Linked DNA regions of Homo sapiens: region 1 is linked to region 2. The links come from fine-mapping of genetic effects on gene expression. Tissue or cell type: lung. Region 2 holds a variant in brackets; the other region holds the start of a gene. All regions are shown on one strand. Distances are from middle to middle.

Evidence for each region. PIP is the estimated chance that this variant, and not a neighbour inherited with it, causes the effect.
Region 1: it holds the start of DCK, and the variant in region 2 is fine-mapped to the expression of DCK in lung (GTEx, PIP 0.95).

Annotation. Positions count from the first base shown.
Region 1 is chr4:70,991,026-70,996,025 of GRCh38, reverse strand. DCK (deoxycytidine kinase) reads right to left here and starts at 2,377. Exons shown (of 7, transcript NM_000788.3): 1 at 2,100-2,377. The coding sequence starts at 2,190. RefSeq lists an enhancer at 1,952-2,131 and a silencer at 2,302-2,641.
Region 2 is chr4:70,693,071-70,698,331 of GRCh38, reverse strand. No RefSeq gene overlaps it. Among named protein-coding and RNA genes, the nearest start is that of UTP3, 7.2 kb to the right of the region's middle. The variant G/T (reference allele first, on the strand shown) is at 2,096.

The DNA of each region.
Region 1 (5,000 bases), 300 kb before region 2:
ACTATGTTGCCATGCTAGTCTCAAACTCCTGGCCTCAAGCAATCCTCCTGCCTCAGCCTCCCAAAGCACTGGGATTACAAGCTTGAGCCACTGGCCAGTAAAATTTTTTTTCAACCTGTGCAGGCCAATATTGTGCAATTGCAGGCTATCAGTTCACAACTACTTTCAGTGTAGGTAAAGGCAAAATCAGTGAAGAATTTTAAGCAGGGGATAACACATGACATTTGCATACAAAAAGACCGTTGCAGAAGTAGTTAAGAGAAACTGGAGATGGGATGATATATTAGGAAATTATTTCAGCTGCTGAAAAGATTAAAGATGCTTTGAGGAAATATTTCTAAATATGATGCTACCTAACTGGATTGGAGAGAGGGAAAGGGGATGAATGTATTGTGGTATTGATCCGAGGGGTTATTCATTCAACTTTACTGTTTTGTTTCTGTGTTTTTAACAGAGTCTTGCTCTGTCACCCAGGCTAGAGTGCAGTAGTGTGATCATGGCTCACTGTGGCCTTGATCTTTGGGCTCAAGCAATCCTCCTGCCTCAGCCTCCTGAGTAGCTGGAGGCACACCAACACATGCAACTAATTTTTTAATTTTTTTGTGGAGATGAGTTCTCACTATGTTGCCCAGGCTGATCTGGAACTCCTGGACTCAAGTGATCCTCTTGCCTAAGCCTCCCCAAATCCTGGGATTACAAGTATGAGCCTCCATGCCCTGCCTCAAATTTACTTTTCAGATGGCTTTGTTCAGCCACTTTCTCCTGTCTTTATATATGGTCTTCTTTATTCAGTAAGCAGCTGTCAGAGATTCCATACTAGTAAACATGCACCCTCAAATAACTTACATTGCTAATTATATCATATGGTCTTTCTACTGGTGCTTTAATTCTGGAGCAATGAAATAAGAAGTCCTCTTTGAGAATGCAGTTTTTCTATTCATTTGAATGCTTAAAGCATCTGCTTGCCTGGCCTTTTTCAAGAAGGTACAGTGCTTTGAATGTGGTAAGAATTTTAAAAAATTTGCTGTATGCATGAATGACCAGCACCCAACCTGGAGCTAAAAAAATTTTTTTTTAAATCTATCAAAACAGGAAGTTTCAGGGGTAGGTTTCCTGTGGTTGGAGATACAGAAGAATCGGACGTTGGTGTGTATCTTGCAAAGTGACAGGCATGGCCTAGTCTGCCCCCCATCTGAGTTAACAGAAACGTTAGTGGTCTTTGAATCATAATCCAATGTTTACTTGGATGTGGAGTAAGGGGTGAGGAACTCCATGCTATTAAGATCATTAAAGACCTCTTTGCTTGTACTCGAATGTTTCGAGTTTCGTTAATAATATAGCTAAAACAATGCTTCGCTAATAATATAGCTAAAAAACTGTAAACAACCCTGAGGTCCACAACTAGAAAATGGATAAACGATGGTACATCCATGCAATGGAATACTACTCAGCAATAAAAAGAAACAAACTACAGACACAAGTAACATGAATGAATTTCAAAAGCATTATGCTAAATGAAAGACGCCAGACACAAAAGGCGATATAGCCTATGATTCCATTTATATGGCATTCTGGAAAAGGCAACACTTGCAGGGATAGAAATCAAATCAGTGGGTGCCAGGGAATAGGAAGGGTGGAGGGGGCTGAATACAAAGGAGCAGGTAGGAACTTTCTAAGGTGATGAAAATGTTCTGTATCTCGATCATGGTGATAGCAAAAGGCATAATGTTTGTCAAACCTCATAGAAGAGTACACCTAAAAAGGGTGAATTTAATGTAAGTTACACCTCAAGAAATCTAATACCCTTCCCCCGCTTCCCTTTGCGAGTTCCCAACAAAGAGGGAGCAGAGGTTCAAAGCGCGCCTCACAGAGACCGCAGGCCTGGCGCCCAGTCTGACCCCGGGGACCGCAGTCACCCCGTGGAGCGGGAGGTAAGGGAAGGATGCTCTGGGTGGGAAAGGAAGCCGAGGCCGCGTCCACACCGCCAGGCTGGAGGGAAAGCCCTCACCGAGTTGCTGCAGAGAGATGCGGCGAAGGGAAGCTTCAGCCACTGCCGCGACACCCCAGCCTTGCGTCCCACATTTCCGGAGGCTCCTTACCGATGTTCCCTTCGATGGAGATTTTCTTGATGCGGGTCCCCTCAGAGCTGGCTGAGAAAGACGGGCAGCTTCTCTTGGGCGGGGTGGCCATTCCTTAGTCTTGTGGCGGCCCAGAGCTCGTCCGGCAAAGAGGGCTGGGAGGCGGCCACGGGTGCGCGCACTGGAGCTCGCGGCGCCGCTAAGCCAGATCCTGACCTGCCGGGTCAGCTAGTGAGCTCACCGGCCCGCCGGCGGGTGTCGGGGTTTGACTTTGGCGCGCGGAGGCAGCTGAGGACACTGGCGGGCCTGCGGGGCGGCCCCGCCCTCCTCAAGCCGCGCTCCCTAGCTGCCCCTCGGCCCTCGCCCGCCTCCAGCGCGGGTTCCCGCGTGCGCGCTCCGCACGCCAGGTCACGTGAAGGCCGGGGCGGGGCCGCGCGTGTGGCGGAAGGCCTCTACCCCAAGCAGCCAGGCGCCCGGGCAGGGCGCGGGAAGAGGTTCCGGAGTCGGGTGGGGAGGAAGGGTGGACCCCAGAGGCCTGAGGGCGCTGGAGGGCAGAGGGCGTCACCTGCAGTGGGCCGTGCCAGGCTTTGGAAAACCCGCCTCTCTAGTGGGCCTGTTGGAGATGAACAGACGCGTCTGGACAGAACTGGATAGACTTAAAGCTTTGAACTCATCTGGGGAGAAGGCACTGTGTGGTAGGAAAATCAAATGGATTTACTCTGGCTTCTCAGCCTAGAGGAAGACTATCAGGCGAAGTGCCGTCCTTGGGAATCGCACTGCCCACTTAGAGAGCCAGGCTGTTTTCTTCTATGTGCTTTTCATTAATTAACGAAGTCTAGTGCCAGAAATACCGTCATTAGCCCATTTACCTGCCAGTGGGAAAACAGGCACTGAGAGGCTGCTTGTTCCAAGTGTCAAAGTCAGTAAGTGAAACTGGGATGGGAATTTAGGTAGTCAGATGCCACCCACAGGAGGCCTTTCCAGATCTCCCATACCGCTTTCCATTTGATTTGGATGCACGACCATGCTGTATAGAAGTTAGCACGTTGGGTAGGTAGGTTTCTGTTCAGCTGTTAACTCAGCCTGCCCGACACCTGGCACATAGGTAACAAAATGTACTGTATGTTGAATTTTTGAATGCCTACTCATGTGCCATGTACTCTGCTAGAATACTCATCTAGATGGGACAAATGCAGTGTAGGATTTGTCCCAGCTAGATGAGTGCATTTTTAGTCAGGGTAAAGACCTAATGAGGCAAGAGAATAGGGAATTAGGGTAACCAAGGGTTAAGGCATAAGCAAAAGAACAGCAGGTGCAGCAATTTCTAGGCAAGACTAGGCAGCATACAGGCCACACCTTCACTCCTGTGATTACAAGACAGAAGTTTCCACATCGCCTCTGATTGTCCTCGGCCATCTCCATTTCAGCCTCTGATTGGTCGCAGGCCAATCCTTCATAGGGTGCAACCAATTGGACGACTGTAAAGGGCACCTAGGGATTTACCAAATTCTTTTAGCCTAGTAACCCTTAAGAACACTGCAATTGGGACTCTTGAAGCACTTGGTTCGCTTCAATAAATTTGTGCTTTTGTTACTTCGTTCTTTTGTTGTTTTGTCTTTCGTTGCTTCTTTTGTTGCTTTGTTTCTACGTTTTGTTCAATTCTTTGTTCAACACGCCAAAAACCCAGACAACTCAGTCAAGACTTCCCATCCAGTAACACTAATAAACCGGATATTACCCAGTCTGGAAGTTATCTGGTCCAAATTGTCTACAGAAACCAAAGGCCTTGCTATTCTTTTTTACATTGCAACTATCATCAGACCTGAAATGCATCTAAATGTGTAGCCAGAAGGGGAAAACGGTGACTCCATCCTCAGAAATAAAGAGCAGAAATTAAAATGTGAATCCTCGGGGATCACATTTTCCAGGATTAAACAGCAAGAATCATTCTATGTAACTGCCCTATATTATTCTGTTATGCAATTATTTTGTATATATTACTTTTACTTATCCCTATAGTGATTAATAGCAAGATCCTAGGAATATAAGAGGCCTGAAGAGTTGTCATCAGGTATAGCAAGGAAGTTGGGAGAAAGGTGCTGCGGAAGCTAATAGGTATCACATTTCACAGCCAAGCTTGGGGGAAAACTCATGAAATGGTAAGAGTACTGGCAGCTACCGAGAGGAGGAAGGCAAGTCTCTTGAGACCTTCAACAGGAAAGCAGAGCTGGTCCTGGATGGATGTCATAAAGAGGCTTGGGGTTAAGGAGTAGAAATCTCCAAGTGTGGTTTCCACAAAAAAGACCCACACAAGAAGTATCTTACAATGATGAAGAGTTTAAGCACTGGAAAATGAAAGATTTCAAACACCAGTTCTACCAGTTTCTGGCTGCAAAAACTTGAATTCATCTGAGCTTAAGAGTATACTTTGAAAAATACAAATGTGGGAGGCCGAGGCAGGTGAATCGCTTGAGCCCAGGAGTTTGAGACTAGCCTGGGCAACATGGCAAAACTCTTGTCTCTACAAAAAATAGAAAAATTAGCCAGGCGCCTGTAGTCCCAACTATTTGGGAGGCTGAGGTGGGAGAATTACCGAAGCCAGGGAGTCAAGGCTGCAGTGAGCCAAGATCATGCCACTGTACTCCAGTGAGATCCTGTCTCAACTAACAACAACAAAGTAAATGGGGGAAGCAAAGAATCTAGCTTTTTTGGCATTAAGTCCAGCATAATTTCCCATTTTCCTACATGACCTGGGGGTAACACAAGGAGAGAACAGAGAAAAGCACTTTTCAAAACATCTTGATTTTTGGTCCACAATCTCTTATCTAAAACCCTGGCAGCCAGATGTTTCAGAATTTAAAACTTTTAGAAAAGATTTTTAGAAAAGAAATTCTAAACTTTGGAACTGGCTGGACGCAGTGG
Region 2 (5,261 bases):
GATAATAATGATGTTGCTGAAGATTTCTATGAATGTATCCAGTAATTCTCATGCTCTCTCTTTCTGGTTCTTCTTCTCCTTCTTTTTTTTTTTTTGAGACAGAGCTTTGCTCTTGTTGCCCAGGCTGGAGTGCAGTAGTGTGATCTCGGCTCACTGCAACCTCCACCTTCTGGGTTAAAGCAATTCTCCTGCCTCAGCCTCCAGAGTAGCTGGGATTACAGGCGTGCACCACCATGTCCGGCTAATTTTTGTATTTTTAATGGAGATGGGGTTTCATCATACGGGTCAGGCTGGTCTTGAACTCCTGACCTCAAATGATCCACCTGCCATGGCCTCCCAAAGTGCTGGGATTACAGGCGTGAGTTACTGTGCCCGGCCTGTCCTCTGCGTTAAAGCTTCATCTTTTCTTGCCAGTTATTATTGCAAAGGACTCCTCATTGGTTTCCCTGCCTCTGGTTTTAATCTATTCCAGTTGCCCTGCTCTACAGCAGCTAGAATGAGTAATTTACTTTTCTGAACGTTCACCTAATTATGCCACAACATTTCTTAAAAACCTGGGTTCACTTCTTTATGTGTGGGATACAATCTAAATGCATTAACTACCTAGTAAGGTCTTTCATGATCTAACCCCTTCCTATCTTTCCAATATTATCCTCCTATCTTGTCTTACCCCTTGTTGCCTTTGACTAAGCTTTAACATGTTTGCCATTACTCATATTGCGGTACCCGTTCTTCCTCTCCCAAACTCTACTCAAACAAAGCTGTGATACTTTTTCTGCTCTCCCCATGTAGAAAGGTACATGCCATTTTTGAGGTCTCATAGTACCCTATTTAAGCAGTTAATTGTTTTAATTGTAATGAATTTATGCCTCTTCCCAAATTTAGCATCGTTTTTTCCTCTTTTTACAATGCATAAAAGATTTATTTTTTGTACTATTTGTTCCTTGTACTATTCCTAAGTAGTTATCAGTCCCTCTCACTTATTTTTTATTTTTTTGAGACATGGCCTCACTGTCACCCAGGTAGTGGCACAATCATGGCTCACTGCAGCCTTGACCTCCCAGGCTCAAGTGATCCTCCCACCTCAGCCTCACCACTAGCTGGGACCACAGGCGCACACCACCATGCCCAGCTAATTTTTGTATTTTTAGTAGAGATGGAGTTTCACCCTGTTGCCCAAGCTGGTCTCGAACTCATGTGCTCAAGTGATTTGCCCACCTTGGCCTCCTAAAATTCTGAGTTTACAGGCGTGAGCTACTACGCCCAGCCTCACTTATTTTTAAGACCCTTTCCTCTTAAGATCACATCAAAATTCTTTTTTTCTATCTGTGACCATCAGGTATCCGAATAAAAGCAATTCAAAAAAACTGGACTGAATAAGAAGCTTAAGGAATAACTTATTTAGCTTACATTTATATTTCCCTTTTTATGTATGTTCAAGTGTGGTGTGAATAGAAATATAAGTATGTCTAAAAGAGGTCATTTAATAAATGTGAAAAAATTTTAGGTGCTAATTAAATTCTGCCATCTACTTAATTTGAATAATCCTCACCCCACCATGGCAAAATTGTCTATTATATGTATTAAAACAGGCCATATAAAACAATGCACAAGGGTAAAAGGTACAGCCCTTCTAGCATTAAGTTTTCTTATTTTTTCAGATGGAGTCTCACTCTGTCGCCAGGCTGGAGTGCAGTGGCACGATCTCGGCTCACTGCAACCTCTGCCTCCCGGGTTCAAGTGATTCTCCTGCCTCAACCTCCTGAGTAGCTGAGATTACAGGAGTGCACCACCACGCCCAGCTAATTTCTGTATTTTTAGTAGAGGTGGGGTTTCACCATGTTGGCCAGGATGGTCTTGATCTCCTGATTTCGTGATCTGCCCTCCTCGGCCTCCCAAAGTGCTGGGATTACAGGCGTGAGCCACCACACCCAGGCTAGCATAAAGTTTTGTAACTGAGGTCTATGGACTCCTGGCTTCAGGGAGTCCAGGAACCCACTGTCATATGCAAAATGTGATTAGGACTGTGCTATGGTTCTGGGGTGGGGTGAGGGGAGGCCTACTGTTTTCAAGATTCTCAAGAAGTAGTCCCATG[G/T]TAATGCCACATCATATTTCACTCTTGTAATTAACTTCATTCATATGCCTAATGTTATTAGCTGAGAGAAACCCAGAGCAGTGTTTCTCAAAACATATTCTGTAGACCATTTGGATCAGAATCATGTTGCATGCCTGTTAAAACAGAGATGACTGGATCCAACACCAGGAGAGTTGAATCAGAATCTGTGCAGGTAGGGCACAGGAATCTGTACTTTAAACTTACCAACTGATCCTTGGACATTCTGGTTTAAGAACCATTATGGTTGGCCGGGCACGGTGGCTCACGCCTGTAATCCCAGCACTTTGGGAGGCCGAGGCAGGCAGATCACAACGTCAGGAGATCGAGACCATCCTGGCTAACACGGTGAAACCCTGTTCCTACTAAAAATACAAAAATCAGCTGGGTGTGGTGGCAGGCGCCTGTAGTCCCAGCCACTCAGGAGGCTGAGGCAGGAGAATCACTTGAACCCATGAGGTGGAGGTTGCAGTGAGCCGAGACTGCGCCGCTGAACTCCAGCCTGGGCCACAGAGCGAGACTCCGTCTCAAAAACAAAAACAAACAAACAAAAGAACCATTATGGTAGAACCTAAGAGAAATTAACTCATTCAAGTGGAGTAAATTCGCTTTTTAAGACCGGGTCTCACTCTGCAGCCCAGGCTGGAGTGTAGTGGGGCCATCATGCCTCACTGCAGCCTCCACCTCCTCAGGCACAGGCAGTCCTCCCACCTCAGCCTCCCAAGAAGCTGTTACTACAGGCACGTGTGGTACCATGCCCAGCTAATTTTTTTAATGTTTTATGTGGCCCAGGTTGGTCTTGAACACCTGGGTTCAAGCAGTTCTCCTATCTGAGCCTCTCAAAGTGCTGGGATTATAGGTGTGAGCTACCACACCTGGCTAAATTAGTTTTTTTTTTTTTTTTTTTTTTTTTGAGACGGAGTTTTGCTCTTGTTGCCCAGGCTGGAGTGCAATGGTGCAATCTCGGCTCACCGCAATCTCTACCTCCCGGGTTCAAGCAATTCTCCTGCCTCAGCCTCTGGAGTAGCTGGGATTACAGGCATGCGCCACCATGCCCGGCTAATTTTGTATTTTTAGTAAAGACGGGGTTTCTCCATGTTGGTCAGACTGGTCTCAAACTCCCGACCTCAGTTAATCCACCCACCTCGGCCTCCCAAAGTGCCTGGATTACAGGCATGAGCCACCGCGCCCAGCCAGTTTTTTAAAACTGGATTAAAAAAAATAGTAACGAACATGAAGCACTTACTACCTGTCAAGTGTTCTTCTAAATTGATGTTACATGATTAACCATTTAAACTATTAACTATTATATATTATTCAATGTGAAGAAATTGCAGTACAGAGAGGTTAAGTAGACCAAAGACACATGGTAAGTGGGTGAAACAGGACTTTGAACTCAATCTGGCTCTGGAGGCCAAACTCTTCCCAATCACTTCCCTTTATTGCCTTTTTTTTTTTTTTTTTTTTTTTTTTTGAGACAGCGTTTCACTCTTGTTGCCCAGGCTGGAGTGCAATGGAGCAATCTCGGCTCACCGCAACCTCTGCCTCCCGGGTTCAAGCGATTCTCCTGCCTCAGCCTCCTGAGTAGCCGAGATTACAGGCATGCATCACCACGCTCGGCTAATTTTGTATTTTTAGTAGAGATGGGGGTTTCTCCATGTTGGTCAGGCTGGTCTTGAACTCCCGACCTCAGGTGATCCACCCGCCTCAACCTCCCAAAGTGCTGGATTACAGACGTGAGCCACCACGCCCGGCCCTATTGGCTTTCTTAAAGCAGAACATTTTACTAGTTTCCTCCAGGTCTTTTTGTTTTGTAGTTTAACAAATGTTGATTCTTGATATTTGCTATCATTTAAAACTTCACTTTGTAGCAAATGTAAAATCACTGGTTTTATTTTTTAAGAATAGCTGAAAGAATCAAAATATATCATCTGGAATACATAGCTAAAGTAACTACCAATTAAAAACTCAGCTATGAGAAAATATATCTTAAACAAAATGAAAAAATACAGACTAATATTTGTTGATGGGGGGGGGTATAAAGGTTCTATACTGTTTTTTTCTATTTTTGAGACGTAGTCTTACTCTTGCCCAGGCTTGAGTGCTCACTGCAACCTCTCCCTCCCAGTTTCAAGTGATTCTCCTGCTTCAGCCTCCTGAGTAGCTGGGACTACAGGAGTGCACCACCATGCCCGGCTGATTTTTTTTTTTTCAGTAGAGATGGGGTTTTGCCATGTTGACCAGGCTGGTCTCGAACTCCTGACCTCAAGTGATCTGCCTGCCTGAGCCTCCTGCCGTGCTGGAATTACAGGCATGAGTCACTGTACTCTGCCTGTTTCTGTTTTTTAAACTTTCAAAGGCAAATTATAATTTTGTTTTTAAGAATAAAAAATACAATCTGATTAGCTGAAGCAGCTTTTTTTTTCAGTGTGATTTTTGTTGTTGTTGTTTGAGACAGTCTTGCTCTGTTGCCCAGGCTGGAGTGCAGTGGTACGATCTCAGCTCACCACAACCTCTGCCGCCCGGGTTCAAGCGATTCTCCTGCCTTGGTCTCCTGAGTAGCTGGGACTACAGGCGTGGGCCATCACGCCTGGCTAATTTTTGTATTTTTAGTAGAGATGGGGTTTCACCATGTTGGCCACGTTGGTCTTGAACTCCTGACCTTGTGATCTGCCTGCCTCAGCCTCCCAAAGTGCTGGGATTACAGGCATCAGCCACCGCGCCCGGCCCAGTGTGATTTTAAATTCTAGTTAGAAACATGATTTTTTTTGGTAACATCTATAATTCAGTGTTCCTGTTCAGTACCTGTTCATCATTGTGATCTCCAAGATGTAAAGCATACTAAGTTCCACTTTTCTTGAATTATTCTGGTAATGTTAACTTGTATAATTTAACACGTTAACTTAAAATTATTTTATTTCATAGCAACTCCAGCCATTCCTCAGATATATCAAATATTTTGTGTAAGATACGTGAATCAAATTAATTATTCAAGTTATCTAAGCTAGATTTTATCTTTTAGATCACAAAAAGTAATTTTCCAGTTTGCCAAAAACTTTGACCATTAGGTAGTTCTTAGAGGTCTGAGAAGCGAATAAAATTTACTTCTACACAAAAATTAAAGTGGCATGTTGATCTTATTTAACTT